3 separate regions of the Homo sapiens genome follow, and regions 1 and 3 are each linked to region 2. Evidence: fine-mapped expression QTL. A gene starts in region 2. Each other region holds a variant in brackets. All regions are shown on one strand. Distances are between the middles of the regions.

What was found. PIP is the estimated chance that this variant, and not a neighbour inherited with it, causes the effect.
Region 1: its variant is fine-mapped to the expression of SCNN1D in cerebellar hemisphere (GTEx, PIP 0.99).
Region 3: its variant is fine-mapped to the expression of SCNN1D in esophagus mucosa (GTEx, PIP above 0.99).

What each region holds. Positions count from the first base shown.
Region 1 is chr1:1,300,685-1,310,979 of GRCh38, forward strand. ACAP3 (ArfGAP with coiled-coil, ankyrin repeat and PH domains 3) reads right to left here and starts at 7,246. Exons shown (of 24, transcript NM_030649.3): 1 at 7,085-7,246; 2 at 3,402-3,459; 3 at 2,478-2,597; 4 at 2,238-2,291; 5 at 1,304-1,362; 6 at 1-8. The coding sequence starts at 7,131. PUSL1 (pseudouridine synthase like 1) reads left to right here and starts at 7,913. Exons shown (of 8, transcript NM_153339.3): 1 at 7,913-8,036; 2 at 8,231-8,288; 3 at 8,402-8,589; 4 at 8,770-8,919; 5 at 8,997-9,167; 6 at 9,950-10,004; 7 at 10,225-10,295. The coding sequence starts at 7,960. It overlaps SNORD167 (small nucleolar RNA, C/D box 167), which reads right to left and starts at 4,128; the gene lies at 4,045-4,128. RefSeq lists enhancers at 1,087-1,688, 1,689-2,288, 2,289-2,889, 2,890-3,489, 3,490-4,090 and silencers at 5,111-5,280, 6,795-7,014, 7,065-7,234, 7,275-7,954, 8,175-8,244 and 2 more. The variant T/C (reference allele first, on the strand shown) is at 5,682.
Region 2 is chr1:1,273,489-1,283,493 of GRCh38, forward strand. It overlaps SCNN1D (sodium channel epithelial 1 subunit delta), which reads left to right and starts at 6,948. Exons shown (of 18, transcript NM_001130413.4): 1 at 6,948-7,178; 2 at 7,738-7,809; 3 at 7,923-8,122; 4 at 8,754-8,827. The coding sequence starts at 7,174. It overlaps LINC01786 (long intergenic non-protein coding RNA 1786), which reads left to right and starts at 514. Exons shown (of 3, transcript NR_185846.1): 1 at 514-993; 2 at 1,315-1,811; 3 at 5,580-7,119. It overlaps UBE2J2 (ubiquitin conjugating enzyme E2 J2), which reads right to left and starts at 366. Exons shown (of 7, transcript NM_058167.3): 1 at 178-366. RefSeq lists enhancers at 1-21, 1,212-1,850 and silencers at 211-790, 951-1,000, 9,672-9,872.
Region 3 is chr1:1,016,814-1,027,108 of GRCh38, forward strand. AGRN (agrin) reads left to right here and starts at 3,307. Exons shown (of 36, transcript NM_198576.4): 1 at 3,307-3,560; 2 at 5,388-5,649. The coding sequence starts at 3,360. RefSeq lists a silencer at 2,621-3,070 and enhancers at 4,579-5,778, 6,963-7,939, 7,940-8,915. The variant C/T (reference allele first, on the strand shown) is at 5,447.

The sequences.
Region 1 (10,295 bases), 27 kb after region 2:
GCACATCCCTGGAGGCCAAGTGCCAGGTGGGGTGAGAGATCAGGGAGGGCACCTGCTGGATCCTGGAGTCTCCCACATCGTTGTTTGTGTGTTTTTTGTTTTTTGAGACGGAGTTTCGCTCTTGTCACCCAGGCTGGAGTGCAATGGTGCTGTCTCGGCTCACCGCAATCTCTGCCTCGCGAGTTCAAGTGATTCTCCTGCCTCAGCTTCCCTAGCAGCTGGGATTACAGGCATGCGCCACCAGGCCTAATTTTGTATTTTTAGTAGAGATGGGGTTTCTCCAGGTTGGTCAGGCTGGTCTTGAACTCCCGACCTCAGGTGATTCACCCACCTCGGTCTCCCAACGTGCTGGGATTACAGGCGTGAGCCACTGCGCCTGGCCTGGTTTTGTTTGTTTGAGACAGGGTCTGTCTCTGTTGCCCAGGCTGGAGGCTGGAGTGCAGTGGCACAGTTATGGCTCACTGCAGCCTCTACCTCCCAGGCTCAAGCAATTCTCCCACCTCGGCCTCCCAAGTAGCTGAGGCTACAGGTGCGTGCCACCATATAAGGCTTATTTTTGGTTCTTGGGGGTGTCTTTTTTTTTTTTTTTTTTTTTGATGGAGTCTCTCTCTGTCACCCAGGCTGGAGTGCAGTAGCACAATCATGGCTCACTGCTGCCTCCGCCTCCTGGGCTCAACTGATCCTCCCACCTCATCCTCCTGAATAGCTGGGACCATAGGCACGTGCCACCATGCCCATCTAATTTTTTTTTTTTTTTTTTTTTGTAGAGATGGAGGTCTCATTACGTTGCCCAGGCTGGTCTCAAACTCCTGGCATTCTCTGGCCTTGGCCTCCCAAACGCTGGGATTACAGGTGTGAGCCACCATGCCCAGCCCCACCCCCCTCCACTCCAGGCCCTTTCTTTGCTCCTGGGCATAGCCTCCTTCCTCACCAGCCTATCCCAGGCCTGCCCGCACCCCTGCTGACCCCGATCATCTGCTCCAGGCCTCCCCAGCCCCTCCCCACCTCACTCTCAAGATCTGTCCAGCCCAGACCCCAGCCATGCCCCAGACTCCAGACCCCCAAACCCAACGTGGACTGGACCTCTCTGCTGTGGGGGCTGGACACCCCACCCACACATGCAGGGTGTGGAACCCCCCGCACTCCACCCGGCTGTCTGCCTCTGAGCCTTCTGCCTTGTGGAGCCGCTGCACAGCCTGGAGGCCTGGGCCCAAGGTGCCTCTGCTCTGCCCCAGACCCCCTTCCCCTCCAAGGGAGGGAGCGTGGCCTCAGTGTTCTTCCCCCAGCCCTGGGGGCCACTCACTCTTTGACAAAGCTCTGGAGCTGCTGCCGCACGGACCTCTGGGCCTGGTCAAACAGGATCTGGGGGCAGAGGCGGGCAGAGATCCTTGGGGTCTGTCCCGAAAGAGCCCCAGATGGAAGGCCCCATCCTCACCAGCAGAGGGCACTGCCCCCAGGCCCAGATGCAGGGGCGGGTCCCACCCTGCAGGGCTGGCCTCAAGGGGGTCAGGGGAGCAGCCCCCAGGCCTGAGTTGGCACTCAGAGGCGATGGCTGTCACCCCTGCCCCTCTGTCCCACCTGGCCCTTGATGAGTGCAGAGGCCAAGGCTGCCTCATCACAGCCTGAGCCGGAGCCCCACTGCCTCCTGGCCCTGGGCGGCCACCCTGGGGTGCCCATCCCTGCAGCAGGGAGCACTCAGCCAGAGCCGGGAGCACCCAGGGGCTGGGCCTGGGGAGCTGGAGCCTGGGCTCTGAATCGGAACCCGAAGTAGAGAAGGACCGGGCACAACCAGGAGCAAAGGGACGGCTGAGCCATCCTGCCTTGTCTACTTCGGGACCTCCTCTGTTCAGTCTGCGGCTCAGGTTCCCAGGCTGCAGCCCCACATCTCACGGGTGCCTGTCCTGTGTGTCCATCCACGTCAGTGCCAGGGCCCCCGGGGGCCACCCAGACCCAAATGGCAGCCAGGCCAGCCTGGGACGAGAGCCCTGCCCAGTTGGGGGAACCCTGGATAAACCACCCCTCCCCCAGGGTCTAGTGTGGCCCTTGCCTGGGACACGGCAGAGCCCCCAGGGCTGTCCCCCAACCCCACACTGACTTGAAAATGTGGGATTCCCCCCCCCCCCGACTAGAGGAGCAGAAACGTGCCCCCCCCAACCCGACGCCGGCCTTCAGGTGAGCCAGCGCAGCTCGGTTCCAGGCCAGGCACAGCCCACAGGTGGCAGGGAGGCCGCGCTCACCATGTGGTAGTTCACCACCTCCTGTAGGCTGTCAGCGAACCTCTGCAGACATTCCTGGAGGAGCAGATGGGAACCCGTGCTGAGATGGCAAATCCGGGCCCAGGTCACCCAGCCACGCCCTCTGAGCCCCTGGGCGGTGCAGACACCGGCCTGCTTCTGGCCTGGACGCCCTCAAGGGGCTGCCTCCCTCGGCCTCTCCCCCAACCCCACCTTGAGGTCAGAGGTCAGTCGGCCCCTCACCGAGATGACGGTGTCGCCCTGGCACTGCTGGGACAGGTCGCGGACGCCGCTCACGAAAAGCCTGCTGGTGCTGACGTAGGCCTTACCGGCTTCCACCATGCCACTGCACAGCTTCACCAGCTGTGGGCCAGCGGGGCGTGGTGAGCACAGTGGGCACTGGCGCCTGCACTCGCCACCACACACGGCCACTCAGAGGCAGGAAGAGCTCCCAGGGTAGGTTCCACTCAGGGCGTTGGCACTCAGGACTCAGTGCCCCGGTGCAGCTTCCTCACGCCTGGGCCTGCCTGGGGCTTGGAGGCCCGTCTGGGAGGGGAGGGTGGGGCCGCCACGGCTCGGCTGGGAGGGACCAGGAGCCAGGCAGGGGACCCAGGGCCAGCAGGACCAGCAGAACCAGCCCATGTGGGGCTCATGGATAAGGCTGCCCACTCCCAGCTCCACGGCCTGTTGCCCCCTCCTCTTTCTCAGCCCATGTGGGGCTCATGGACACGGCTCCCCTCTCCACGGCCTGTTGCCCCCTCTTTCTCAGCCCATGTGGGGCTCATGGACACGGCTCCCCCCTCCACGGCCTGTTGCCCCCTCCCCTTTCTCAGCCCCAGCCCCAGCCACACCAAGGCTCAGCCCACACAGCAGCTGTCCCCGTGTCACCAGCCCAGCAGAGGGGACGGGCAGCCACCGTGGGTCGGGGACTCACCACAGCCCAGCCCCTCCCAGATGGGACGAGACTCAGGGCCAGCCACATGTGTGCATGTGACATGTGCACCCTGGAACACACATGCTAAGACACAGGGACCAGGACCTGGAGCACCACACGCATGCTCCACATATGGGGGGTGTAAGTGGCTTAGTAAGGCCTGGAGGGCGAGTCTGGCCATGTGGCCATCCCAAGCTTGGCCGGGCACAGGGCGCTCCAGGCCCGCCCTTCACCTTGTCCAGTTTGGCCTCAATCTCCACCACGTCCGTCTCCACCTCGTCAATGGTCGCCCTAAAGCAAGAACGGGGCTGGCTGGGGTCACCTGCAGCCTCAGCCCCCTCGGGGCTTCACCTCCCCCCGCACCTCCCTGAGGGGCTCCACCATGGGAAGGGGCTTTCAGGAAACAGGCTGGGAGACAGACGCCTGCCTGCTACGGGGGCAGGACTGGGACCAGGTTCAGTGCACTTCCCCCCGCCCCCCCAACCCCAGGCAGGCAGAGGCAGCCGCTGCTGTGCCCTCGGGGAAGAAGGCTGGACCAGCCTCTCCCAGGACAGCCGGCCGCTGGGAGTCCCTCAGGGACAGTGCCCACCAAGGGCTGAGCCAGCCTCACCCGCCTCTCCTCTAGGAGTTCAGAGTCAACCCTGGACCCATCTGGAGCCCCTCAACCCTGCGGCACCTCCCCTCACCCCACTGCACTACTGCAGCCCATCCAGGTCTGGCACCCATGCACTGTGGGACAGGGTGGGGGCAGTAGGGCAGCTGCTCTCGGTCCTGGCAGCACCAGGAGGACCCAGACCAGCTGGGGAGAGACGCCCCCGGCTCCCCCAACCTCACAGCTGCAAGCGGCATGGTCCGCTGGAAAGACGGGTAGGCCATCCTCCTCAGAGCCCACTCCCACCAGGACAGCCTGACAGTGGGGCTGCCTGGGGAGAGAAGAGTTAAGGCATGACATCACCAGAGAAGCCTCGGCGGGAGAATCCCCGGAAGACAGGAGGCAGATGGATCGGGCACGTGACCACCCCCTCCGGGAGCAGGCAACAGGGAAACAGGGCCAGGATCCCGGCAGCCCTCCACACAATCGGCTCACTGGCTGTCCGGGCCATCTGGCCTCCTGGGGATTGGGCACCACAGGGCCCGGGCTGGGGCCAGGACTCCAGGTCTAGGGCAGGGGTCCAGGAGCAGAGGCCATCAGGGCCTACAGTCCCTCGTACCTTGCTACCCTGACCGGTGTCCCAGGCCTCGGGGGAGGGGCCTGTGGTTTACATGGGGCGTGTCCTCAATTAGGAGCTGGAGCTGCAGGCACCAGGCTGCCCCAGCCAGGGACCTTGAAGGGTCCCAGCCACCCCAGAAGGACACTAGGTCCTCTCTGAGCAGCCCTCTCTTGTTCCCAAGGGGCTAAGAGGACTCTGAATCCCGAAGCAGGGGGCGATGGAGGGAATCTCGCTGTGGTGTCCGCTGACCGCCAGTGCCCAGCCTGCAGCCCCTGGACCCTGACCTCTACCTCAGCTGGAGGATCCCAGAACAGAGAAGGGACCATCCTCCCAGGAGAAGGCAGCAGAGAGCGCCACACCCCAGGAGTTGCAGCCACCCCTGAGCAGGGCCGGATGCAGAGACAGCTGCACCCAGAGCTGCCGCCCTCGGGTTTGGGGCGCCCGTGTCCCTGGAGAGCCAGCAAGGGGGGATGGCTGCACCCAGGAGCTCACGGACGTGCTCATGGGGACAGGGTGGGCCCTGGCAGAGGCCCCGAGAGCCGCTCCCACTGCTGGGAGCCCCTCAGCTCTCCCTTCCTCAGTCCTGGGGACCTAGGCCTCCTCTGCTGTGCTCAGCCCAGGATTTCCTCAGCAGCTTGGAGGACGGGGAGGAGGGTGAGGCTGCCCCCCAACCAAAGCCATGACTCAGCGCCTGAAGCCCCACCCAGGGGAGGGGCACACTGAACAGAGGCCAGGCGGTTCCCCTACACGGGCTCCCCTGGCCTCCGGCCCACTGCACCTGGGCTGCCACTAGGCCCTCCCCAGACCAGGAGGGTGCGGGCAGGGTCCCCCTCTCCCGGGCTGGGGCGACCAGGCTCCACGTTACAGACCACATCTTCCCGCCCACCCTGCCTGGCCCCCCAACCTGGCGGTAGGCCAGGAAACTCAAGTTACGCCCTTAGGGCCTGCCCCCAGGACAGCCTCAGGGAGCCCCTCGAACCCCAGTTAAATCACAGCCTAACCCCAAAACCCACTGGGCCAGGCCATTCTCATCTCCCCACTCCAGTCCATGCCCCACAGGGGTGAGGCACTTTCCCAGGGCAGTCACTCTACGGCACCTACTGCAGCCCCACAGCCCCCATAACTGGCTCCTGTAACAGGCTCCCATGAGAGCCGGTTACCAGAGAGAAGGCCCAGAGGTGAGTGGGTTCCAGCACCCCCACACGACTGGAAGAGGGCAGTACAGGGCCGTCTGCGTGGAGGAGGAGGTCCATTAGGCTTCTGACGGAGGGGCCAGGGAGAAGGTGGGTGCTTCAGCCAGGG[T/C]CCAGCCCCCAGCAGGGAGGCCATGCCCACACCTCCCCACAGCCCGGGTCCTCAATGCAGGATCCTAGGGTGCTCAAGTTATTCAACCCCTTTTCCCAGGTCAGCAACAGAAGATGGGAGAGCAGAGGATGGCCCCAGTTCCTCTGCCCAGGGCTGGCGGCCACTCTCCTGGCTGGCCCTGAGCCTCCCACTCCAAGGCTCCTGAGCCTCCTGGTGAGGGCTCCAGGGATACAGAGGCTCCCCGTGCCTCCACACACATGCTGACTTGCCAGCAGATCCCAAGAGACCCAGCGCGCGCGTGCACACCCACACATACACAATCAAGCACACATGTGCAAACATGTTCATGCACAAACATGCCTGCACACACTGGTACCACACATACATGTGTGTTCAAGGAGACACTGCACAGACACGCATCAACATGTGTACCTAGTGATGGAACACGCGTGTACAAGGTGATGTGTCTATTGCTGACATGGCTAACACAGTACGTGAACCCACACAGACAGGTGGTGTGTGCACACGCTTGCGTGCACTCATCGGCAGGCTACATGCAGAAGCAAGCACAGCCCCGTGGCACAGCTCATCCACACGTCCTGTGCAAGGCCTGGTGTCCGGAGGGAGGCACGCAGAGGGGCAAAGTTCACAAGAGCGCACCCCGCACGAGCTCGTGCAGAGGAGGGGGCCTCACGCAGGTGCGCACTTGGGGATGCAGAGAGGTTTCTTTGCCTCCATTGTCGTTTGCCAAATGTCCACCAAGCAAAGCCGATGCACACTTGTGCACACGTCTGTGAACATGTAGTTCACGCAGGTGTACACGCCTGCACGCCACGAATGATGGAAAACATGCAGACTCGGTGTGCACACAACCCCTACCCCCTACCTGACCTTCCCCGCCGCTCTTCTCGGCCGCCACCCCTCCAAGCCCCTGGGTCATTCAAACCACTTCACGTTTCCAAGCACCCTACCCCAGGCCTTAAACGCGGCTCCAGCTGCCTGTTCCCCACGCGCTGCTCTGGACACAGGATCAAGTCAGAGACCAGGGGCCGACGCCCCCACGGACCCAGACGACCCTGGCCAGAGCTGGACTGCAGGGCCCGGGAGGGGCTCAGCCCAGTGGAGGTGCAGACACAGAGCGGGGGCGGACGGTCCCGAGGTGCCCACGGCTGCCCACGCGCACGCCCTCCACCCGGGGCGGCCGCACAGGGCAGGAGCGTCTTTTGTTCCAACCCCCGGGGCATGGCGGGGCGGGGCCGCCGCTTTGTCCGAGGCCGGTCCTCCAGCCCCTCCCCGGCGGCCGCGGCCCGGCCCGGCGCTGACCTCCCCACCCCGCCGCCGGGCACAAAGGCGACAGCGACGCCCCCGGCCTGCGCCCACCCCGGCGGCCCCGGGCGGCGCACCTGAAGCGCGGGGAGTCCTTGACGCACTCCTCGAACTCCACGGTCATGGCTGCGGCGGCCGCGGCGCTCACTGGCACGAGGACCGCGGCGCCGAGCGGCAGCCGCGCCGGCCCGGACCGCTCGTCCCGCCCGCGCCGCCTCGGCGCCCGCCCGCCCCGGAATGAGGCCGCCGCGCCGCGCCCCGCCCCGCCTGTCACCGCCGGGGAGCGTCGCCAAAGTCAGCCGCCCGCGCGCACCGCCCGCTGTCACTGCCGGGGAGCGTCGCCAAGGTCCGCCGCCCGCGCGCGCCGCCCGCTGTCACCGCCGGGGAGCGTCGCCAAACGCCTCTCGCAGCGTCCAGGGACCACCCCGGTCCGGAAGTGAGGCGGGGCCTGCCACGGCCGTCTCCGGGGACAGTCGGTGGAAATGTGGGGCGCGGGGAGGGCGCGGGGAGGGCGCGGGCCCGCCCGCTCCAACCATCCCGGCCGTTGCGCAACTCAGGGCGTTTGCAAAAACCACGTCTGGGAGGACTTGGCCGCAACGCGGCGAACGGGCGCGCTCGGGGAGTGTGGGCGGCGGCGAATGAATGAGCGAGTGAACGAATGCACGCCCGCGAGAGCGCGGGGTGACCGCGTGGTTGGTGCGCGCCTCCCGGGGCGCCGCGATAGAGGTAGAGCGCCTGCGCTCGGCGGCGGGCCGGCACTTTGCAGCCGCTCCCTAAGCCCGGCCCCGCCTCCGCTCCCCGACTCTGGCCGCCGTGGCGCGGTGCCACCGCGCAGGCGCAAGAGCGGCCGGGGCCGGGGGGGAGGGGGGGGGGGCGTGACCAGGCCGCGTCCGCGCGCGCGCAGGATTCCTGCGCTGGAGGCCGCCTCTGACGCCACCGGCTGGGCTCCGCCATGAGTTCGGCGCCGGCCTCAGGCTCCGTGCGCGCGCGCTATCTTGTGTACTTCCAGTACGTGGGCACCGACTTTAAGTAGGTTTCCCAGGCGCAGCGGCGGGCGCCACGTGGGCCCGGGCGGAGGCGGGAAGGAGGGCGCGGGCGGGCAGGCGGATGTCTCTGGACGCGGGTTCCAAACGTTCGGGGAAGGAAGCGGCCCTGGCCTCAGACGGCGGCGGAGACCCCAGGGCAGGGCGCCCCCGGTAACCTCCGCCCGCTTCTGCCCGCAGCGGGGTCGCGGCCGTCAGGGGCACTCAGCGCGCCGTCGGGGTCCAGAACTACCTGGAGGTGCGCTCAGCCGGTCACGGGACGCCCGGTGAGGGGTAAGGGGGAGGCTCCCGCCCGCGCGTCCCCGGGGTCCGGCCTCGCTCACCCGCCCGCCCCGCGGCTCGGTCCTGCAGGAGGCCGCCGAGCGGCTGAATTCCGTGGAGCCGGTCAGGTTCACCATCTCCAGCCGCACGGACGCCGGGGTCCACGCCCTGAGCAACGCGGCGCACCTGGACGTCCAGCGCCGCTCAGGCCGGCCGCCCTTCCCGCCCGAGGTCCTGGCCGAGGCCCTCAACACACACCTGCGGCACCCGGCCATCAGGTGAGCCCGCGACCTAAGCAGCCCTGGGGCTGTGCCTTCCCGACTCCATCTGTCGCGGGCGGAGGCTGGAGATCTGGACAGACTTCCTTGTCTGGTCGGAGCTCGAGGGGGAAGGAGAGCCAATGTGACACCGCGGGCGGGCGGGGTCGTTCCTCCGGTGAGCTTTACCTGCCGCCATAGGGTCCTGCGGGCCTTCCGAGTGCCCAGCGACTTCCACGCTCGTCACGCAGCCACGTCCCGGACCTACCTGTACCGCCTGGCCACTGGCTGTCACCGGCGTGATGAGCTGCCGGTGTTTGAACGCAACCTATGCTGGACTCTCCCGGCAGAGTGAGTGTGGCCCTGACAGCGGGGAGGGGGCGGGCAGGCCGGCCCCACCCTCCTGACGGTCACCCTGGTCCCTGAAGCTGCCTGGATATGGTCGCCATGCAGGAAGCCGCCCAGCACCTCCTCGGCACACACGACTTCAGCGCCTTCCAGTCCGCTGGCAGCCCGGTGCCGAGCCCCGTGCGAACGCTGCGCCGGGTCTCCGTTTCCCCAGGCCAAGCCAGCCCCTTGGTCACCCCCGAGGAGAGCAGGTGAGGAAGGGCCCCTGGGCTGTGGCCCTGCCCTCAAGTCACGTGCTGATTTTAGCTCCAGCACCTCCCCCAGTTTTAAGGCAAGGTGAGGCGGGAGGCAGGCAGCCGGGAGTCCTCAGGACCTGGACAGCTGGAGGGGATTCGCCCGGACGCCCCCCAGCCTCCAGCTGTGCCCTCCCCCCAGGCTGGGGAGCGGAGAACAGGGAAGGCTGCTTGTCTCTGAAAAACCCCTGCCATGCCTGATGGAAGAATGTTGGCAGCTACTGGAAAGGTCTCACTGGTGCCAGTGGTTCTGGTGGGGTGGTTTCTGCTGCCCCCAGCACTGTCCCGAGGGCCACCCACCAGGTGGCAGCTTCTGACCAGAACCTCCCCTATTGGGGTGAGCCCTGAAGGGGGGAAGAACTTCTGCCAGCCCCAGACTTCTGTGGCAGAGCAGCAGGTACAGGACTGGGGGTCTCTGGCACCCGCACCAGCCACGTTCCCAGACCCTGCACCAGGACCCTAGGTGAGGGCCCAGGGCAAGCCCCTCTGGGATGGCCAGGCTACCTGCCCAGCCTCCAGGGTCCTGCTGCCTCCTTGCCCAAGCATTGTTTCTCTGGTTTTAAGCCCCTCCAATGGGCCTCACTGGGGGCAGGAGATCAGCCAGGGCCCCTGGTGGCCAAGCTAGTGGGAACCAGGCTCGTCTTTAGGCCCACCCTGTCACTCTCCCGTCCAAGGCCACATAGTAGGCTGAGGATGGCAAACACTGCCCCACAGACACCTACAGGTACGTATTTTTCCAGGAAGCTGCGGTTCTGGAACCTGGAGTTTGAGAGCCAGTCTTTCCTGTATAGACAGGTAGGCTCTGTTCTGGGGCCGTCCCCAGGGGGTGGGGCTGAGGGTGGGCAGGCCCCTGTGCAGTCTTGGCTCTGGGTCGTGGGCGGCTCTGGGTCACAGGTACGGAGGATGACGGCTGTGCTGGTGGGTCACGGGCGGCTCTGGGTCACAGGTACGGAGGATGACGGCTGTGCTGGTGGGTCACGGGCGGCTCTGGGTCACAGGTGGCTCTGGGTCACAGGTACGGAGGATGACGGCTGTGCTGGTGGCCGTGGGGCTGGGGGCTTTGGCACCTGCCCAGGTGAAGACGAT
Region 2 (10,005 bases):
CGTAACCGACCTCGGGTTCCGCGCAGGCAGGCTCGGGCCGGGGCCCCGCGGGCGGCGGGCGCGAACGGAGAAGCGTCGCGCAGGGTCCCCAGCAGCCCCGGGCCGCCGCTGTGGCCGGCTCCGGCAGGGGGGACGAGCGGGCCCGAGGACCCGGCGCAGGCCTGCGAGCGCGCTCACCTCTCCCTGTCGCTGCGCGTGGGCCGCCGCCGCGCTCAGGCTCGCCGTAGTCGAGGCCGGAGCAGGGTGCGGAAAAGCGGGGCCCGCGCCCGAAACAGCCGCACCGCCCCGGGATTGGGCCCACCGAACCCGCCGCAGCGCCGCCGCCGCCGCCTCAGCCTCCAAGATGGCCGCTCGCGGGGCGGAACCAGCCTAGCTTCTGCTTCCGGTGCGCGGTCCGGGGCGGTGAGGAGGGAGGGGGAGGGCTGGCCGCTCTAGGCAGACTGGCGGACCGCGCCCACGACTCTCTGTCGCCGTCGACCCCGGGGTGGGGGATGGGGCGGGGGGCGGGGCGGCGCTTGCGCACTGGCGGGCGGCTCCGGGCACCGTTAGTGGGCGCGAGAGCCCCAGACCCCGAAGCCGCGCGCTTCCCTCCCCATGTGCCACGGCCCAGGGCGGCAGGCCCGGCTGAGGGCGACCCCGGTGGAGAAAGAACCCCGACCCTCCCGCCTCCCGGCTCCCGCCTTGTCCTCCGCTCCCACGCCCCACCCGGCCCTTAGGGGAGGCGCGGCGCGGCCCGGGCATGGAGCGTCCCGGGCCCCTGGAGGCTCAGTGGAGGGTTGGGCTCCAGGGAGCTCAGAGCTCTCTCGTTCAGGGACCCGAGAGTGACACGCGTGGCATCTCTTTGCAACCCACGTCCGCGCCGCAGCACCCTCCCCTGCAGGTGCCTGCCCAGCCCCGGGATGCCCCTGACCTCCCCTTGGACAGACTGCAGAAAGCGCGGGGCGCTGCGTCCTCTCCACCTCTCTCTGACCCCAGACACATTGGGAGAGAGCGGTAGGTGGCGGGGCGCTGGGGTGGGACGCTGGGGGCAGGCGCGCAGCCCACCGCCTCCCTGAGAGGCCGCTGAGGACAGCGGGGAGCTGAGGGTGGTCCCCTGGTGGGGGATCAGGAGGTGGACCTCGCCACCTGGCTGCCTGTGGCCCTCTCCTTTGCCCCAACCCTGACTGCCTCTCAGGAACAACCACAGGTCAGCAAGGTGGCTGAATATTGAGGGTCAGTCCCGCTGTGGCTACGGGCAGAGGGCAGGCTGTGTCCATGCTCAGCCCTGACTCTGGCCCTCTGGGACACCTTGGTGGGTCTGAGACGTTGCTGCAGGCCGTGGGGCAGAAGCCAGGAGGAGTGTCCACGCAGCCTCAGCCCGTGGGAATCCAGCCTGCCTCCATTACTGCCGTCACCGGCTCCACCTTCGGAGAACATCTCAGCATCCAGCCTCCTTCCTCTGCCTCCTCTCAGGCCTCTGCCGTTCCCATGCAGGGCAGGCCAAACTGTTTTCACAGCATGGAAAGTTATGTGAGGGAAGCCACACCGGCCGCAGATACAGGCACCAGCACATCCACTCGCATGCACACTCACGGCTGTGGCCCGCGGCAGATGGAGGCCCGCTCTGCCTTGTCTGTCCCTCAGTAGTGTGCGATGACAGCACACCTGTGGGGGCCCTGCAGCTGGGAAGACTGCAGCGAGGCTCAACTCAGAGGCCCCTGCTCAGGAGCATGGCTGAGTCACACCCCAGGGAGAAGGTGCCCCGGACAGGTGTGGCCAGCACGTCTTGCCAAGACCCCACCACCCCACCCACCCGCATCTGTGGCCTTCTGGTAAGCAGGACACAGGCTGCCCAGGCCTCTAGCCATAGAGCCGATGGCCTTGGCCAGTGGGATCGGCACAAGCAGCTAGGTTGGTGGCAGATGGTGGCTGTAACCTTCTCAACCCTGAGATTGCCCTCTGAGGGCAGGAGCAGCCCTTCTGCTGTGGGCCAGCCCTCCGGAGGGACTTCCTCTGGCAGCTTCAGGAATAGGACAACAGGGACCACCCTCAGCATCTTGAGCAGCGGGGGGCACCCTCTGCTTTGGCAACCAAGAAAACATCCCCCAACCCAGTTACCACCTCCTGCCCCCACCTCCTCCAGCCCCCAGGGTTGGACCAGAAAGCCTTGGCTGCCTCTGAACAGCAGGGATTGTCTGGCCAGGGGATGCTTGAGGGACAGAGAACCCAGCCTGGAGGGTGCAAACTGAGGAAGGTCTCAGTCCCTTTAGAAAGTTTGTTTTGCCAAGGTTAAGGACACACCCATGACATCTCGGGAGGTGCCCAAGGTGCATGTGGCACAGCTCGCTTTTATACATTTTAGGGAGACATGATTTATTTACACGGGTTCAATCTGAAAGAGCAGGATAAATTGGGGTGGTGTGGGGAGACCTCTATGTTATAGGCAGATTCAAAATGATCCTGACCGACAGTGGTTGAAAGAGTTATTATCAATAGAAAGGAATGTCTGGGTTGCAGTAAGGGGTTGTGGTTTTCCACGCAGCTGAAGCCTCGGGTTGCCGGCTTCAGAGAGAATAGATTGTTAATGTTTCCTATCAGACTTAAGGCCTGTGTTGATGTTAATGCTAGTCAGCTTTTCCTGAATTTCAAAAGGGAGGAGGCATGACCCACGACCCCTTCCCGCCATGGCCTGAACAAGTTCCCAGGTTAACACTGGAACGCCCTTGGCTGAGAGGAAGGGTCCATTTGGACGGCTGGGGGGGCCTTAGAATTTAATTTTTGGTTTACATTCACCCCCTTCTGGCCAAGATTTGCCAGAGGCAACATCCATGTCCACCAAATCTTTATTGTGTCTCAGCGTTGCTGGGCGAGTGTGGCTGCCCACCCTCAGTCAATCCTGTCCCTCAGTTTGACTCCCTATGACCCAGGGACTTACAGTTAAAAGATTTACAGCCCATTAAATTTTGTAGGCCAGATAGGAATGGACATGGACCAGCATTCATTACCTCTTAAAACAATTTTTTTTTTTAAAGTTGGAGTCTCACTCTGTCGCCCAGGCTGGAGTACAGTGGCATGATCTCGGCTCACTGCAACCTCCGCCTCCCAGGTTCCATTGAGTCTCCTGCCCCAGCCTCCTGAGCAGCTGGAACTACAGGCATGCACCACCATGCCTGGCTAATTTTTATATTTTTGTAGAGACAGGGTTTCACCATGTTGGCCAGGCTGGTCTTGAACTCCTGACCTCAAGTGATCCGCCCTCCTTGGCCTCCCAAAGTGTTGGGATTGCAGGCATGAGCCACCACACCCGATCTATCATGTAACATTTTTATAAATTCCTTTTTTACCAAAGGTATTGCAGCTTACACAGACCGTTCACGACATGTGGACTTTCTAGTTTGTGCTGAACATCCCTTTTTTTAAACAACCAGTCATTTATTTAAGGACAAAAATTTACCATACAAGATTCTTTCTCATATAAAATTATTTTTTTTAACCTTACTTAACAAAAAGACCTCTTTATATCTATAACTTTCCTTGGTCTCTCTTATTTCCTTGTTCTTTTTAACTCATTTTATACATAAACTTTAAATAAGCTTTGAATTAGACAAAATTATTTACCTTATAATAAGAATTTTTGTAGAAAGAACGTTTTCCTATAATTTTTTTTTTTTTAGATGGAGTCTCACTCTGTCGCCCAGGCTGGAGTGCGATGGTGCAATCTCGGCTCACTGCAACCTCCCCCTCCCAGGTCCAAGTGATTCTCCGGCCTCAGCTTCCCAAGTAGCTGGGATTACAGGCATGTGCTACCACACCTGGCTAATTTTTGTATTTTTCAGTAGAGACGGGGTTTTGCCATGTTGGCCAGGCTGGTCTCCAATTCCTGATCTCAGGTGATCTACCTGCCTCGGCCTCCCAAAGTTCTGGGATTACAGGTGTGAGTCCCCATGCCTGGCCTTCAGCTGGGTTTAGAGTTTTACAATGCTTATGCCAAGTTTTGACCCCTTATAAATCAATAAATGCAAACAAAAATGTATGCTGACAGTTTTTAAGACACTCCTTATATTACTTTACCAATACTTTTGGCCGGGCACGGTGGCTCACGCCTGTAATCCCAGCACTTTGGGAGGCCGAGGCAGGTACATCACGAGGTCAGGAGATGGAGACCGTCCTGGCTAACATGGTGAAACCCCGTCTCTACTAAAATATACAAAAAATTAGCCGGGCGTGGTAGCGGGCGCCTGTAGTCCCAGCTACTCGGGAGGCTGAGGCAGGAGAATGGCCTGAACCCAGAAGGCAGAGCTTGCAGTGAGCCCAGATCGCACCACCGCACTCCAGCCTGGGGGACAGAGCGAGACTCCGTCTCAAAAAAAAAAAAATTTTTTACTTAAGTCACATGAAATTTGTTATTATGTACTAAATGTATGCATACTCCTTAAGCCACTTTGATACCTTGTGGCCACAAAACATGTATCAGAATCCACGCACGTACACATAAACACATCTAAACACACATATACACTCATCCAAAAACCCTACAGCTTTTGCTTTACACCTCTAACCATGACATATCAACACAAAGTCACTAGTTAGAAAAACAATAACAGAAAGAAACATCTAGATGCAAACTGTGGATGTCATCTCAGTAGAAAAGTAACAGCTGGTCAGGCACGGTGGCTCACAACTGTAATCCCAGCACTTTGGGAGGCCAAGGTGAGTGGATTGCCTCAGGCCAGGAGTTCAAGACCAGCCTGGCCAACATGGTGAAACCACGTCTCTACTAAATTTACAAAAACTAGCCAGGCGTGGTGGCGCACACCTGTAATCCTGGCTACTTGGAAGGCTGAGGCAGGAGAATCGTTTGAACCCAGGAGGCAGAGTTTGCAGTGCGCCGAGATCGCACCCCTGCACTCTAGCCTGGGCAACACAGTGAGACTCTACCTAAAAAAAACAAAAAGTGTAACAGCAGCTTTAAGGCAGGCAGCAAAGGAAACAGAGAGATAGAGAACTTAGGAACTCTATAGTTCTTTTTTTTTTTTTTTTTTGAAACAGAGTTTTGTTCTTGCAGCCCTGGCTGGGGTGCAATGGCACGATCTCAGCTCACTGCAACCTCCGCCTTCTAGATTCAAGCTATTCTCCTGCCTAAGCCTCCCAAGTAGCTGGGATTACAGGTGCATGCCACCACGCTCGGCTCATTTTTGTATTTTTAGTAGTGATGGGGTTTCACTCTGTCGGTCAGGCTGGTCTCGAACTCCTGACCTCAGGTGATCCGCCCGCCTTGGCCTCCAAAAGTGCTGGGATTACAGGCGTGAGCCACTGCGCCTGGCCAGGAACTCTATGGTTCTGTAGTTGCAGGCTGACCTTTGGGCTCTGAATTTTTCCTGGATGGAATTTGCCCATCAGTTTAAAATGTGCCCCAAAAGACCATAATATGGAACCAGCTGGGGCACTAGGAAACCCAGCATGCCCGCGACATGTTCAGTTTTATACCAACACTTGCAGGTAGAGGCGCCTGAAACCAGCGGGGTGCCTGGAAGGAGGTCGCCCTCTTGTCTTTGCTGAGGCTTACATTATTTATTTCCCACTTTTTTTTTTCTTGAAAGGAACCGAGCTGTGGCCTGGGGTTCCATGGAGCAGGTGGGGCGCGGAGGAACTGAGCTGTGGCCTGGGGTTCCGTGGAGCAGGTTGAGTATGGAGGAACTGGGGTTCCGTGGAGCAGGTGGGGCGCAGAGGAACCGAGCTGTGGAATGGGGTTCCGTGGAGCAGGTTGAGTGTGCCGGTCGTGGACGGGTCGTGGGCGGGACTCCCCAGTGTGTCACCACTGAGGCATCTTCGCCCTCTTACGTGTCTCTGTTTCTCTCTCTAGAAGTCCAACACCTCCGAGAGGACTCAAAACACAGAGTGACCAGCTCCTATGTGCATTTCCTGGACAAACCTTTTTTTTTTTTTTTTTTTTGAGACGGAGTCTCGCTCTGTCGCCCAGGCTGGAGTGCAGTGGCACGATCTCGGCTCACTGCAAGCTCTGCCTCCCGGGTTCACGCCATTCTCCCGCCTCAGCCTCCCAAGTAGCTGGGACTACAGGCTCCCGCCACAATGCCCGGCTAATTTTTTGTGTTTTTAGCAGAGACGAGGTTTCACCGTGTTAGCCAGGATGGTCTCGATCACCTGACCTCGTGATCCACCCGCCTCGGCCTCCCAAAGTGCTGGGATTACAGGCGTGAGCCACTGCACCCAGCAGACAAACCTTTTTAAACTAATTGTGTTGGGGGGTTCCCTGTGGGGCTGCTGCACGTCGTGGGGGATCAGCCCACGAGATACTCCCACTTGGCTCACAGTCACCCAGGGGCGCCTTTCAGCTGGGAGGAGCAAAATGCCTTTCTTTCTGGAGCTGAGAAAACTCAGTCTCTCATTTATCTATGCAAAGAACAATTCAGTTCCTCATGCAAATGCACGCACAAGCCAGTTGGGCTTAATTTTGGGAGAAAAAGCAACAGAGAAGACCCTTAGGAACGCACGTCCGAGCTAGAAACCAAATGGGGTACCCAAAAGGGAGTCGTTCTCCTTGTCTTAAGAAAAAGGTGGCCGGGCGCAGTGGTTCACACCCGTAATCTCAGCACTTTGGGAGGCCGAGGCAGGCGGATCACCAGGTCAAGAGATCAAGACCAGCCTGGCCAATATGGTGAAACCCCATCTCTACTAAAAAAATATACAAAAATTAGGCTGGGCGCAGTGGCTTATGCCTGTAATCCCAGCACTTTGGGAGGCCGAGGTGGGCGGATCACGAGGTCAGGAGATCGAGACCATCCTGGCTAACACGGTGAAACCCCGTCTCTACTAAAAATACAGAAAATTAGCCAGACGTGGTGGCGGGCGCCTGTAGTCCCAGGTACTCAGGAGGCTGAGGCAGGAGAATGGCGTGAACCCGGGGGGCGGAGCCTGCAGTGAGCCGAGATCGCGCCACTGCCCTCCAGCCTGGGCGACAGCGAGACTCCATCTCAATAAATAAAAAAAAAAAAGAGTTGTTATCAGTAGAAGGGAATGTCTGGTTACAGTATGGCGTTGTGCAGATGAAGGTCTTATCGCAGATGAAGCCACCAGGTCACAAGCCTCAGAGAGAATCAACTATAAATGCTTCTCATCAGACTCAAGGCCTGAGGTGATGCTGATGCTGTGCCTGAATTCCAGCAGGGAGGAGGCATGAGGTGCGTCCGACTCCCTTCCCATCACAGCTGAGCTAGTTTTTCAGGTTAACTTTGGAATGCCCATGGCTAAGACCAGGGGTCCATCCAGACAGTTCAGGGCTTATAATTTTATTTTTGGTTTATGAGGGAACCTAGAAGGCAGCCCACACGCACCTTACTCCTCCCAGCAGGGGACACCGGCCAGACCCCAAGCTCCACACTCCCACCCTCAGCACCCACCCAGGCCAGCAGCCGGGGGCACCTTGGTGCCACCTTAGTGCCTGTTCTGCGGAGGCTCCACTGGACAGTGCAGTTGATGCCCGGGGCCGAGGGGGCTCTGCCTGGGAGGCTGTTCACCTGCCTGGGTGCAGGACCCCAGAGGGACCCCAGGCCACCCCTGGCCTGCCCATGCCCACGGGAATCCCGACCTTGGGCTGCCTGTCTATTGCACCAGAACCGTCCCAGGGCTGACTCAGAGTGACCCTGAGTGGGGGACGCTCACCCCAGGGGAGGAAACGGGGCTCTGGGATAGGAGGTCCTGGCTGGGGTCCCACAGATGCCAGGCGCCTGCCATCTCCAGGGCAGTGCTGTCACAGAAGACAACACCGCTCCCTCGTTACCTGTGGCCCGGCCACCTCAGCGGCCCAAGGAGGTGAGCTCACAGCCATGCTCGGTCAATGGGGCCTGGCCGTCTTTCCTGGGAGAGAGCAGAGGCATGGGCCCAAAGGGAGCCAGGGATGCCTGCCCGTCCCTTCTCTCATTCAGGCTCACCTGGTCATGGTGCAGTGACCACAGGACCCCCACATGCCGGGAGCTGGGTTCGCCCCACCCCACCCCCTGCACCGGGCCAGCGAGGGGATGGCCCAGAAGAGGGGGAGGACCATGTGGATTCACCAGTGCTGGACATGTGCTCTGTGGCTACCCCCTCTGCCTACTCTCTGGCCCGATACAGGGGTGTGGGACAGGTGACTGAACCTCAGCCCTTAGAGGCCTTGCCCGGGAGGAGGGGAGGGGGGTGGAGCCGGGAGCTGCGTGATCCAGCCGAGATGTGCTCTGACTGAGGCCCTGCAGGGCATACGGGTCATGGAAGGGGTGCTCTGCCCCCGGCCAGGGCTCCCCCTCCTACAGGAAGCCGGGGGCCTTGCTCCTGCAAGCTGCCCTTTGGCTGGACCGGGCCCCACTGGCCGGACCTGGGCTCTTTCTCTCTCTGCACCCTGCACCAAGGCTGGGCTGTCTGCCAGGCCACTCCCGGGGACACAGGGAGGCACAGGCTGCTTCCAGCCACAATCTCTGGCAAGCACCTAGGACCTTGTCCCCGCCTGCCAAGTAGCCGCCCGGGCCATGTGTGCCCTGTCTCCTCGGCAGGTGCGGCCCACGCACAAAGCTGCCCAGATGTGGTGGGGGAGAAGCCCCAGGCCTGTGCTGTGTCCGGGGGCCCTGCCGCTGACCTGTGGGGTCTCTGTGACATCAGCAAGCCCCCTGCCGCGAGCTTGGAGAGGCACCCCAGCCCCATCTGGCACTCAAGGAAATCAGCTCAGAGAGGTTGAGTAACTCGGGAAGGCCACACAGCCAGTGACGAAGCTGTGATTCACACAGGCCTGGGTGACTCCAGCATGGCTTTCCTCTCCAGGACGTCACCGGTGGCAGCTGCTTCCTTCCAGAGCCGGCAGGCAGGTGACCTCACCCTCCTCAGAGCCATGGCTCTGCTGCTGGACCCTGTGGGGCTGGGCTCCCCCAGCCAAGCCCAGGGACCCAGCACCACTTGGGGCAGGATGTCAGGAACACAGAGCCTACCCTTCCAACCTGGGCCCGGCTCGGGTCTGGTCATTTGGGACAGTGAGGCCACCTGGATATCTAGGGTCCCACAGTAGACAGGGATGGGGTGGTCCTGGGGGACAGGGACACCTGCCTTCCACACAACCGCACTGGGGCTGAAGACGCCAGCCTGGGAGACTGTGATTTGGACCCTGACAGTAGCATGTGGTCTTAGCATGTGTGAGGTCTTAGCGTGTGTGGTCTTAGTGTGTGTGAGGTCGTAGCGTGTGTGAGGTATTAGCATACGTGTGTGGTCTTAGCATGTGTGGGGTCTTAGTGTGTTGTGAATCACTTTCTTTTTTTTTTTTTTGAGACGGAGTCTTGCTCTGTCGCCCAGGCTGGAGTGCAGTGGCACGATCTCGGCTCACTGCAAGCTCCGCCTCCTGGGTTCACACCATTCTCCTGCCTCAGCCTCCCCAGTAGCTGGGACTACAGGTGCCTGCCACCGCGCCCACCTAATTTTTTGTATTTTTAGTAGAGACGGGGTTTCACCGTGTTAGGCAGGATGGTCTCAAACTCCTGACCTTGTGATCCGCCCGCCTCGGCCTCCCAAAGTGCTGAGATTACAGGCGTGAGCCACCGCGCCTGGTGGTCGTGAGTCACTTCCATGTGTGCCAGCATCTTGGTGTGTGTGGTGTGGGTGTGGACTGAAAGTCTTAGTGTGTGGCGCGTCATCTTAGTGTGTGGTGTGGTTGGTGGCAGCTATAGTGTCCAGCAGGGAGGGCGAGCCCCTGTGCCTACTCGGGGGAGCAGGTGCCTTCTCCACACCCAGACCCTTGGTGTTCCCACATTAGCACCTGTCCCAATGGCTGGGCGGCTGGTCCCGAGAGACACTGGATCTGGGAGCTGAGGTCCCCACCCAGTGTCTGTCAGCCAGGGAAGGGAGGGAGTGCTGGGAGCCCACCACGGCCCCGGATCTGAGTTCCAGGAGCTGGCAGAGAAAGATGGGGCTTCTGGGCCGGGCACGGTGGCTCACGCCTGTAATCCTAGCACTTCGGGAGGCTAAGGCGGGCGGATCACCTGAGGTTGGGAG
Region 3 (10,295 bases), 260 kb before region 2:
TGACTGGCTGGGATTACAGGTGCGTGTCACCCGGCTAATTTTTTAGTAGAGGCAGTTTCACCATGTTGGTCAGGCTGGTCCCGAACTCCTGACCTTGTGATCCACTCCCCCCTTGGCTGCCCAAAGTGCTGGGATCACAAGCGTGAGTTACCGTGCCCTGTCTGTATTTATAGTAGAGACAGAGTTTCACCATGTTGGCCAGGCTGGTCTCGAACTACTGACCTCAAGTGATCCGCCCACCTCGGCCTCCCAAAGTGCTGGGATTACAGGCCTGAGCCACCACGCCCGGCCCGTCGACTAATTTTTTTTTTTTGAAACAGTCTCGCTCTGTCACCCAGGCTGGAGTGCAGTTGCACTGTGTCCAGAATTGGTGGGTTCTTGGTCTCACTGACTTCAAGAATGAAGCCACGGACCCTCGCGGTGAGTGTTACAGCTCTTAAGTCGGCGCGTCTTCAGTTCGTTCCTTCTGATGTTCGGATATGTTCGGAGTTTCTTCCTTCTGGTGGGTTCGTGGTCTCGCTGGCTCAGGAGTGAAGCTGCAGACCTTGGCGGCGAGTGTTACAGCTCTTAAGGCAGCGCGTCTGGATTTTTTGTTCCTCCCGGTGGGCTCGTGGTCTCGCTGGTTTCAGGAGTGAAGCTGCAGACCTTGGCGGTGAGTGTTACAGCTCATAAAAGCAGTGTGAACCCAAAAAGTGAGCAGTAGCAAGATTTATTGCAAAGAGCGAAAGAACAAAGCCTCCACTGTGTGGAAGGGGACCTGACCGGGTTGCCACTGCTAGCACCGGCAGCCTGCTTTTATTCTCTTATCTGGCCCCACCCACATCCTGCTGATGGGTAGAGCCTAGTGGTCTGTTTTGACAGGGCGCTGATTGGTGCATTTACAATCCCTGAGCTAGACACAAAGGTTCTCCACGTCCCCACCAGATTAGTTAGATACAGAGTATCCACACAAAGGTTCTCCAAGGCCCCACCAGAGTAGCTAGATACAGAGTCCACTGGCACATTCACAAACCCTGAGCTAGACACAGGGCGCTGATTGGTGTATTTACAAACCTTGAGCTAGATACAGAGTGCCGATTGGTGTATTTACAATCCCTGAGCTAGACATAAATGTTCTCCAAGGTCTCACCAGAGTAGCTAGATACAGAGTGTCCACTGGCGCATTCACAAACCCTGAGCTAGACACAGGGTGCTGATTGGTGTATTTACAAACCTTGAGCTAGATACAGAGTGCCGATTGGTGTATTTACAATCCCTGAGCTAGACATAAAGGTTCTCCAAGGCCCCACCAGAGTAGCTAGATACAGAGTGTCTGTCTATTGGTGCATTCACAGACTCTGAGCTAGACACAGGGTGCTGATTGGTGTATTTACAATCCCTGAGCTAGACATAAAGGTTCTCCACGTCTCCACCACTCAGGAGCCCAGCTGGCTTCACCCAGTGGATCCCGCACTGGGGCTGCAAGTGGAGCTGCCTGCCAGTCCTGCGCTGTGCACCCGCACTCCTCAGCCCTTGGGTGGTCATGGGACTAGGCACGGTGGAGCAGGGGGCAGCGCTCATCGGGGAGGCTTGGGCCGCACAGGAGCCCACGGAGGGGGTGGGAGGCTCAGGCATGGTGGGCTGCAGGTCCCCAGCTCTGCCCCGCCGGAAGGCAGCTAAGGCCTGGCGAGTAATCGAGTGCAGCGCCAGTGGGCTGGCACTGCTGGGGGACCCACTACACCCTCCGCAGCCGCTGGCCCGGGTGCTAAGCCCCTCATTGCTCCGGGCCGGCAGGGCCGGCCGGCTGCTCCAAGTGCGGGGCCCACCAAGCCCACGCCCACTCGGAACTCCAGCTGGCCCGCAAGAGCCGCGCGCAGCCCCGGTTCCCGCTCATGCCTCTCCCTCCACACCTCCCTGCAAGCTGAGGGAGCCGGCTCCCGCCTTGGCCAGCCCAGAAAGGGGCTCCCACAGTGCAGCGGTGGGCTGAAGGGCTCCTCAAGTGCCACCAAAGTGGGAGCCCAGGCAGAGGAGGCGTGAAGACCGAGAGAGGGCTGTGAGGACTGCCAGCACGCTGTCACCTCTCAGCACCATCTCAGCTCACTGCAACCTCCGCCTCCTGGGTTCAAGCGATTCTCCTGCCTCAGCCTCCCAAGTAGCTAGGACTACAGGCGCCTGCCACCACACCGGCCAATTTTTGTATTTTTAGTAGAGACGGGGTTTCACCATGTTGGCCAGGCTGGTCTCGAACTCCTGACCTCCCGTGATCCACCTGCCTCAGCCTCCCAAAGTGCTGGGATTACAGGCGTGAGCCACTGCGCCCGGCCCATCCAGCTAATTTTTAATTTTTTTGAGAGATGGGGTCTTGCTATTTTGCCCAGGCTAGTCTCGAACACCCGGTGTCAAGAGATCTTGCTGCCTCCGCCTCCCAGAGTGCTGGGATGACAGGCGTGAGTCACCACGCCCAGCCTAGACACAGTTCTGAAGGGACAAAGGGGGCCTCCGCTCCCTCCTTTCAATCTTCAGCTAGGCCAGGCTCCCACTTGGGTCCTCCAGCCCTCAGTTTCCCCCTGCACCCAGCCAGGCCAAGCTGCAGAGGCGCCCGGCCCAGAGCTGGGAAGGGGCGTGGCGGGACCCGCGCTTGCAGCCGCGGGACGGAAGGGGGCGCGAACCTCCCCGCGGCGGGGCCTGGGGGGGCGGGGCCGGGAGGGGCGGGGCCGCGCCCCGTGCTGGCCAATCAGCGCCCGCCCCGGCACCGGGACCCGCCTCCGCGCCGCAGCTCCCGGGGGGTCCGGCCCGGCCGAGCCTCGGTGTCCGGCCCCGCGGGGGAGGGGCGCGGCCTGCGGAGCGGGATCGGGGCCGGGTCTGGGGCCCCTCCCGGCGGCCTTCGAGCCCTGCCGCCCGGCTCCGCGCCGCCCGGAGCCCCTCGGCAGTCCCGTCACGTCTCCTCCAGATTAGGCATTAACTCGGGTGCAGCCGCACTTCCGGGGGGCCGCGGCGGGGGAGGGGCGCCTGCGGGATCCAGACCCGCCCCCCACTCTCCTCTCCCCGCCCCCTCCCGGGCCGCCCCTTTCCCGCCCCACGGCCGCGCCGGGCGCTGCGTCCCGGGGCTTTGTTCGCGGCGGCGCGGGTCGCCGGCCTCCGGGCGGGCCGGGGGAGGGAGGAGGGAGGGGGCGGGAGGGGGAAGGAAGGAGGAGGGGGAGGAGGAGGGCGCGGGGAGGGGGTAGGGGGGCGGGGAGGAGAGAGGGGGAGGGGCGCCGCCCTGGCCCCGCCCCCCCCCGCCCGCCCGCCCGCGCTCCGCCGCCTCCGGAGCTGCGTCCCGTCCTGTCCAGTCCCGTCCCCGGCGCGGCCCGCGCGCTCCTCCGCCGCCTCTCGCCTGCGCCATGGCCGGCCGGTCCCACCCGGGCCCGCTGCGGCCGCTGCTGCCGCTCCTTGTGGTGGCCGCGTGCGTCCTGCCCGGAGCCGGCGGGACATGCCCGGAGCGCGCGCTGGAGCGGCGCGAGGAGGAGGCGAACGTGGTGCTCACCGGGACGGTGGAGGAGATCCTCAACGTGGACCCGGTGCAGCACACGTACTCCTGCAAGGTGCGCCCACCCGGACCCCGGCCTCCCCTCGCGACGCCTGCCGCCCCGCCGGGACCCCCGCCCCAGGCCGTGGGAACCAGCCCCGGTCGCTCCGCAGCCCCCGCTCCGGCTCCCTTGGCGACCGCCAAGCCCCGGGAGGGGGGGTCGCCGGGTCCCGGGAAACTCGCGGGCGCCGGGGAAAGTTGCTGCGCCGCCGCCGTCCTCCGCCCGCCGCCGCCTCCCTCCTCGCGGAGACAAGTGCACCTCGCCCACGGACTGCGGCTGCCGCGCGCCCTCCCTACCGGCCGAGAAGGAGAGGGGCCTGGGGAGGGGGGGCCTTTGCCCGGGCGGGGAGCGGGGGCTGGGCCTGGGATCCGCTTGTTCCCCTCCCCAGAGGCCTTTCCCGGGGCGAGAGGGGTTGGTCAGGAGAGAAAAAGGGGCGCACAGCCTGAGCTCCCAACCCCGGGAGCCAGGTGGGGGGTGCCGCAGTGGTGCGGGGGGGGGGCGTGCAGGAGCAGAGAGGTGGGCGGGGCCGTCACCGGGCCTCGTGTGCTTGGGGGCAGGGCCGGTGCCCCATCGCGCTCCTGCGGGAACCGGGGCTCCCCACCCCGGGGAGGGGAAGTTTCCCTGGTTTCTCCTTCAGGTGCTTCTGGGAGCCCCCGGGGTAGGTACGCTGGGACCCCCACCATCTTCTCCTAGTAGGGGCTCGGGGGACCCAGAGCCGGCGCCCGTGTACCCCCAAAACCATCTCCTGGGACCAGAAATCCACTCATTTCCCTCCACGGAGGTGGAGAAGGTGGCAGCTTCTTTCAGACTGGCCGGTGCGGGCTACAGCTGGGCTCCCCCGCCGGCCCAGTCTCCTCCACAGCGGCCAGGGCACTTTGCCAGGCCCCTGCAGGATTTTCCCGACTTCCTCCCCGCTGCTCCTGGGTGTGGCTGGGGTGGGGGAAGGCGATGAAAGCCACCAGGCCCTCCCCCTGCCTGGGTCATCTGCCTCCTGGAGCCTACTGTTGGGGGGCGTGGAAGAGGCTCTGCCTGCGCAACTGGAGGGGGTCCCTGCGGATGCCGCAGTCCTGAGGCTCCCAGCAGGGGCTGCGCAGTGGACAGGCCAACCATTGTCTCTCCCCCCATCCGGCAGCCCCAGCCCCCCAGATCTGAGGAAGGGGCTGCTTCTCCCGGCTTTGTTCTCAGGGGAGTGCGTGAGTGCGTGGGTCCCTGTCCCCGTGAGGGCCGCCAGGTCGGCTGTAGCCTTTACCACAGGCCACCGTCAGAGCAGCTGCCCTCAGGGCCCCAGGAGCTGAGAAGGTGGAGGGTGGGGCACCCTGCACTGCCCAAACTTGATTTCGTGGTTCACAGGCTGCCCTGAGTGCACAGACTGTAGAAGCCCGAGGAAGGGGCGTCTCAGCCCAGCCACAGGGCCAAGCTGGCCCCTTACCCCAACGCCCCATCCCCCTCCTCCACTGCCCAAGCTTGCTGGGAGGTGGGCCCTGAGCACTGGGCAGGTGGGGAGAAGTGTGGAAGGCAGGCACCCCAAGCCAGGTGGGCCCCCTTCCCAAATTCGGCCTTAGCTGATAGGGACGTTATTGGAGCTGGGGTGGCTGAAGTTGGTTAGACCTGGGGGAGGGGATGTGTTCACAGGTGACGCATCTCTGAGCGTTCCCGCATGGGCTGTGGTGGCCAGTGTGGGCTTCCCCCAGCTTCCGCCCAGCGGGCTGACTCAGAGGTCTCCCCACATCTCTGCCCAGGGCTTGAGTCTACTGTGGACATTTGCCCTAAACACCTAAAGCCCCCAGTCTAGCCCCTTCCCCAGGAGAGGACTAATGACACCTACCGCCATGTCCACCCCAGGTTCGGGTCTGGCGGTACTTGAAGGGCAAAGACCTGGTGGCCCGGGAGAGCCTGCTGGA[C/T]GGCGGCAACAAGGTGGTGATCAGCGGCTTTGGAGACCCCCTCATCTGTGACAACCAGGTGTCCACTGGGGACACCAGGATCTTCTTTGTGAACCCTGCACCCCCATACCTGTGGCCAGCCCACAAGAACGAGCTGATGCTCAACTCCAGCCTCATGCGGATCACCCTGCGGAACCTGGAGGAGGTGGAGTTCTGTGTGGAAGGTGCGTGGTGGGGGGCTCGTGTGGGGGCCTGTGGGGGTCAGGGCAGTGGCCAAGGGGGACAGGTTGCAGGGGTCGCTGTGCGGGGTCCTTTCGTGCTGTGCCGGAGGCTGCAGCACACGGTGTCTTGTGGTCCAACCTCATTCTCTGCTTCTCCGTCCCTGGCTCCCCAGCTGCATCTCCAAGCCCTCACATTAGACATCTTTGGCCCTGGGGCCCAAGGCAAGTCCCAGCCCTGCAAACAGATGGCCTCCTGCCTCCTCCCCTCCTCCCAGCTCTCCATACTTCCTTCTGGAGGCCCCTTCTAGGGAGAAGCTGGACAGGTGAATGTCCCCAGCTGTTCAAGCCCCTGTGTTAGCCCAGACCTCCGTCTAGACGGGCCCGCGTGTCGAGCACTCCTCGCCGTGGAGATCGGGCGGGAGGGCGAGGCTGTGCGGCGAGGGCTTCTGCGGATGTGGAGGGTGTGGCATTTGCCATCGTGAGGTCTTGCTTGCTGTTCCCATGGCTCTGCCGAAGGGCCGAGGAGTGGCCCTCCCTGACCCCAGCCTGGTGGGGGCAGAAATCCCATGGCAGCCCCCGCAGGACAAGTCCCAGTTGGGGACTGAGATCGTTGGCTGGGGAATGTGGCAGGGAAAATATAGGAGGTCCCTGTCGCCCCCACATCCTGTCTGCTCCCTCATGGCTGCCTGGGAAGGGATGTGTCGGTGGGGGGGTCTGGAGAGTGCTTCCTCCTCAAGGCAACGGTAAGGGTCCTGACTTCCCGTCTCTCCGATCTGCTCCGTTGGCCGGCAGGAAACTTTGCTGCCCTGACACTAGCCTGGCTCTTGAGGGGTCCTTGTGGGGTCCTGGACTGTCCACTGCTCTTGCCTTCTCTGTGCATGCCTGGGGGCTATGCAGGGGGAGGGGCAGCACCCAAAATAAGGAACGCTGCGGCCTTTTCCCCAGCCTGTGGTCAGTGGTCCCCAAGCTGCCTTCAGGGTCCAGGGCCTCAGTGCAGCACAGAGGAGGGTCCCCTGGGTCCCCCACTGGGAGGACATGATAACCTTGGTCCTCTTCTGGGCACTCATGGTCTGGGGAAAAGATGGGGGCATCGTGGACTCAGGATAGGCTGTCAGGAGCTGAGGAGGGGCTGGAGAAGGGGGTTAGGGCGAGGAGAGGTTCCTGTCCCTGCAAGATCAGGAGAGGGGGTCACTAACCCCACAGCCAGGTGGGTCCAGCCCGAGAGTCCGTGACTTAGTAGCTGAGGACTTGCTCTAGGGTCAGAGGGCACATGGCAGGAGAGTCACCCCGGCTGAACGAGGCTCTGCATCTTACCGAAGCCGCTCTACGGGTGCCAGGCACTGGCTCTGGAGCGAGTGCCCAGGCGGAGCAGAGCGCTGGGAGGAGGGTCCGTGGGGAGCCCCTGCCAGGTGGGTGTGGCTTAGCCCAGCTGTGGGCAGTCGCACTCAGGGACGAGCTCCAGGTGGGGAGCCTGGGACCCACAGCCAGTATGCAGCTTGGGGAGCACCCGGGAGGGGCTGTGGCCACCGGACCCCCTGGGGTGGGGCTGGCCAGGGGAGGGTTAGCCAGGGAGGACTGTCATGGGAGGGGCCTTGCAGGTGAGCCAGGGGCCAAGGGGAGCCTCAGGAGGGAAACAGCATGAGGAGTGGGGGAGCCCAGGAGCTTCCGGTGGGACATGTGGAGCTCTGCTGTGGAAGTAGACCAGGGATATCTCGGGTGGCTGGGGTCCCTGGCTGCCGGGACAGGGTAAATGCCTCCCAGAAGCCTGGGGTGAGCCCTGAGGGACAAGGTCTCTGGAGCCAGTCTGGCTGGAGAAGGGACAATTCTGTGTGCCCACCCCTCCCCTCACACTGGGTGGTGTGGGAGGTGGGTCCATCTCCTGCTCTGTAGGAGATAAGGACATTGAACCCCACCCTGGGCCCTCTGGTAGCCAAGGCCTCACCCTAGTGAGGGGGATGGATGGAGGGAGCTTGAGCCTAGCTGACCTCTCCCCATCTGACTCCGACCCCACCTCCCAGGGCACAGGATGGCGTCTGGGCAGCCCCTAGTCTTCAGAAGCTACCCCTGAGACCACAGGGTCCCACCTTGTATGGGAACCCCATCCTGGAGACAAAGGCCCCTCCGAGCTCCCCAGGTCGGGGAGGGCCACGCCCCTCACCACCCCTGCCCGGACACCGCCTGAGGTGCACCTGCTGCTGGGCCACACCTGGACTCAGCTCTACTGAGGACTTCCTTTCCTCAGTTTCTCACCTGGCCCTGCCAGATCTTCCTGGCCCTGCCCAGCCAAGGCCCCTCCCCCAGTCAACAACCCTCAGAAAGGCTCCTCCCCCCTTCTCTGCCTAGGGAGCCACATTCCTGGCATAACTAAGACAGGTATGTGTCCCTCCCTCTGCGCCACCTTTGGGCGGGGGAGGCCCGCTGCTCCCTCCGGAAGGAGACCCCCGCCCCTGCTTTGTCAGGGAAGTGGCCTGGCCTCCGCAGTGCCAGCTGCCCAGGGCTGGCGGCTGAGCGGGCGACTCCTCCGGCCCTCGCCACCCTGTCCTGTCTGGGCACTGCCCATGCCCTCCCAGCCCACCTCACAAAGGCTGGTCCTAGAGCCTCCCTGAAGCCCCCAGGAGGGACTCCTGGCTGAGGGCCGGCCAGGCCGCCCGGGGCCCATCCCTCCCTGCTAGGAGCCAGGAGCAGAGAAAGGGAGTGTTGTCTGCCCCTGCCGGGGCCTGGCACAGGGACAGGGCAGGGGGCCAGGGTCAGAGTGAGTCTGGCGCCTTCCCAGCCCGGCCCTGCCCAGCTCTGAAGCCCGGGGTCCCGGCGGCCTAGTCCCGGGCCCGCCTGTATTCCGGCGTGTGCACCCTCCCTTCCTCCCTGCCTGGCCAGCTGCCTAGGCCTCAGGACGGCAGTCCTAGGGGAAGCCCAGAGTCCCACGGCACCGGGGACAGCATCGGTGCTGGGGTTGAGGGGCCCGACAGCCCCAGACCAGGCTCCCCTCAGTGTGGGGCAGTCTAGGAGTTGGGGGAGGTTTCTGGGATGCAGGAGGACCTCCCATAGGGCTGGGGCCAGCCCCCTCTCCTGCCCAGGGCTCAGCTCCTGCCCCCAACTCCTCCGCATTCCTGCCACCCTCTCCTGCCCCCTCCTGACTCCAGGTTCTCATCCTGCCCCCTGGTTCCCCCACCCCCACCCCATGAGCCCCTCTCTGGCCCTCCCCCAGGCAGGTCTGGGCTCGAGGCTGCTGCCCCAATCTCCCTCCTGCAGCTGGGAGGGGGTCTGCCGGGTGGGAGGGCGGAGGGCCTACCTCTGTCCCTCCCCACTCACCTCTGTGTCTCCCCACCCAGGGGCTCCTGGTAGGAAGTTGGGGCCCCACCTCTGTTTCTCCTGGAGCTGGGAGGGGGGTCTGCCGGGTGAAGGGCCCACCTCTGTCCATCCCAACCCCGGGGCTCCTGGTGGGAAGTCGGGGCTCGGTGCTTCCCGCCTGCGTGAATGGACTTGTCCCGTCTTTGACTTCTCCTGGGCTTGCCCCTGCCTTGGCCTGGGGGGGGGCTTTGCTGGCTGAAACCAAAGGGAGTGAGGTGGTGGGAGGGGTAGGGGAATCGGGTTGGTCAGTTCTGTGGAGATGACCTCTTTGAGAGGGCCGGGCTGAGCTGGTGGAAGGAACTCTTGGCTTTTTCCAGACCCCACCCCACTCCCTCACTCCCCACCCAGAGAACAGCCCTGGCTCCATTGTTCCTGCAGACTAGAGAGGGAAGGTTGTTTTGGAACTGGGCTCGCTCCCGCTTGTCCACACTGGCCGCTCTGGTGGGGCCTCTGTGGGTGGTGGTGGGGATGGCACCTGCTGCAGCCTCCAGGCCAAGGTAGGGGAGAAGGAGGTTAGGGTGAGGACAGGTTCCTGTCCCTGCAAGATCAGGAGAGGGAATCATTAGCCCCACAGCCTGCAGAAGGCGGGATGGGGCTGCTCCAGGGAAGGGGGTGCCCGTGCCTCGGGGCCACAGGTCCGGCCAGAGGTCATTCCAGCCAGGCCCATGCAGCTTCCTTCCTGAAGGGCTGACTCTGCCCCCATCACTGCAGGAGGGTGGAAAACAACTGCAGAAGCAGACGCCCCACGCCCAGGGCTTTGCTTCCACCTGTGGGACCCAGGTCCACAGCCCCACCAGCGGCCTGGGTGGGGCAGGAACGGACCCCCTCCCTGCAGTCCTGGTTCTGGCACCCCCTCCCCACTTGGACTGGGCTCCCCAGGGCCCCCGAAGCCCAGCGGGGCTGGGGCTGCAGACGGAAACACCGTGGTGGCCTGCCCACCTCAGGATGGAACCCCGGGGTCCCAGGAGGTGCCTGCCCCTCAGAGATGAGAAAAAGGAAGTGCAGGGCTGAGATATCACCCCATGGACAGTCGCCCGCTGGAGGAGGAGGCTCTGTACCCCTGCACCTCCTGCCTGCTGGGTGAGCTGCTGGGAGCTGCACTGGGGCTCAGAGCAGTCCTGTGCGCCCCTCAGGCTGTGGCAAGATTGTGGCTGGGATCTAGGGAATGAGGCAGGTCTCTAGCGGAGCCTGCAGCACTGAGGGAAGCCCCCCCGAAGGGGCCTCTCCCCCCAGCACAGATCCTGGGAACTTCCTCTGAGGAAGGCCCCCTGCCAGGGGCAGCTCACAGCAGGACCTGGGAA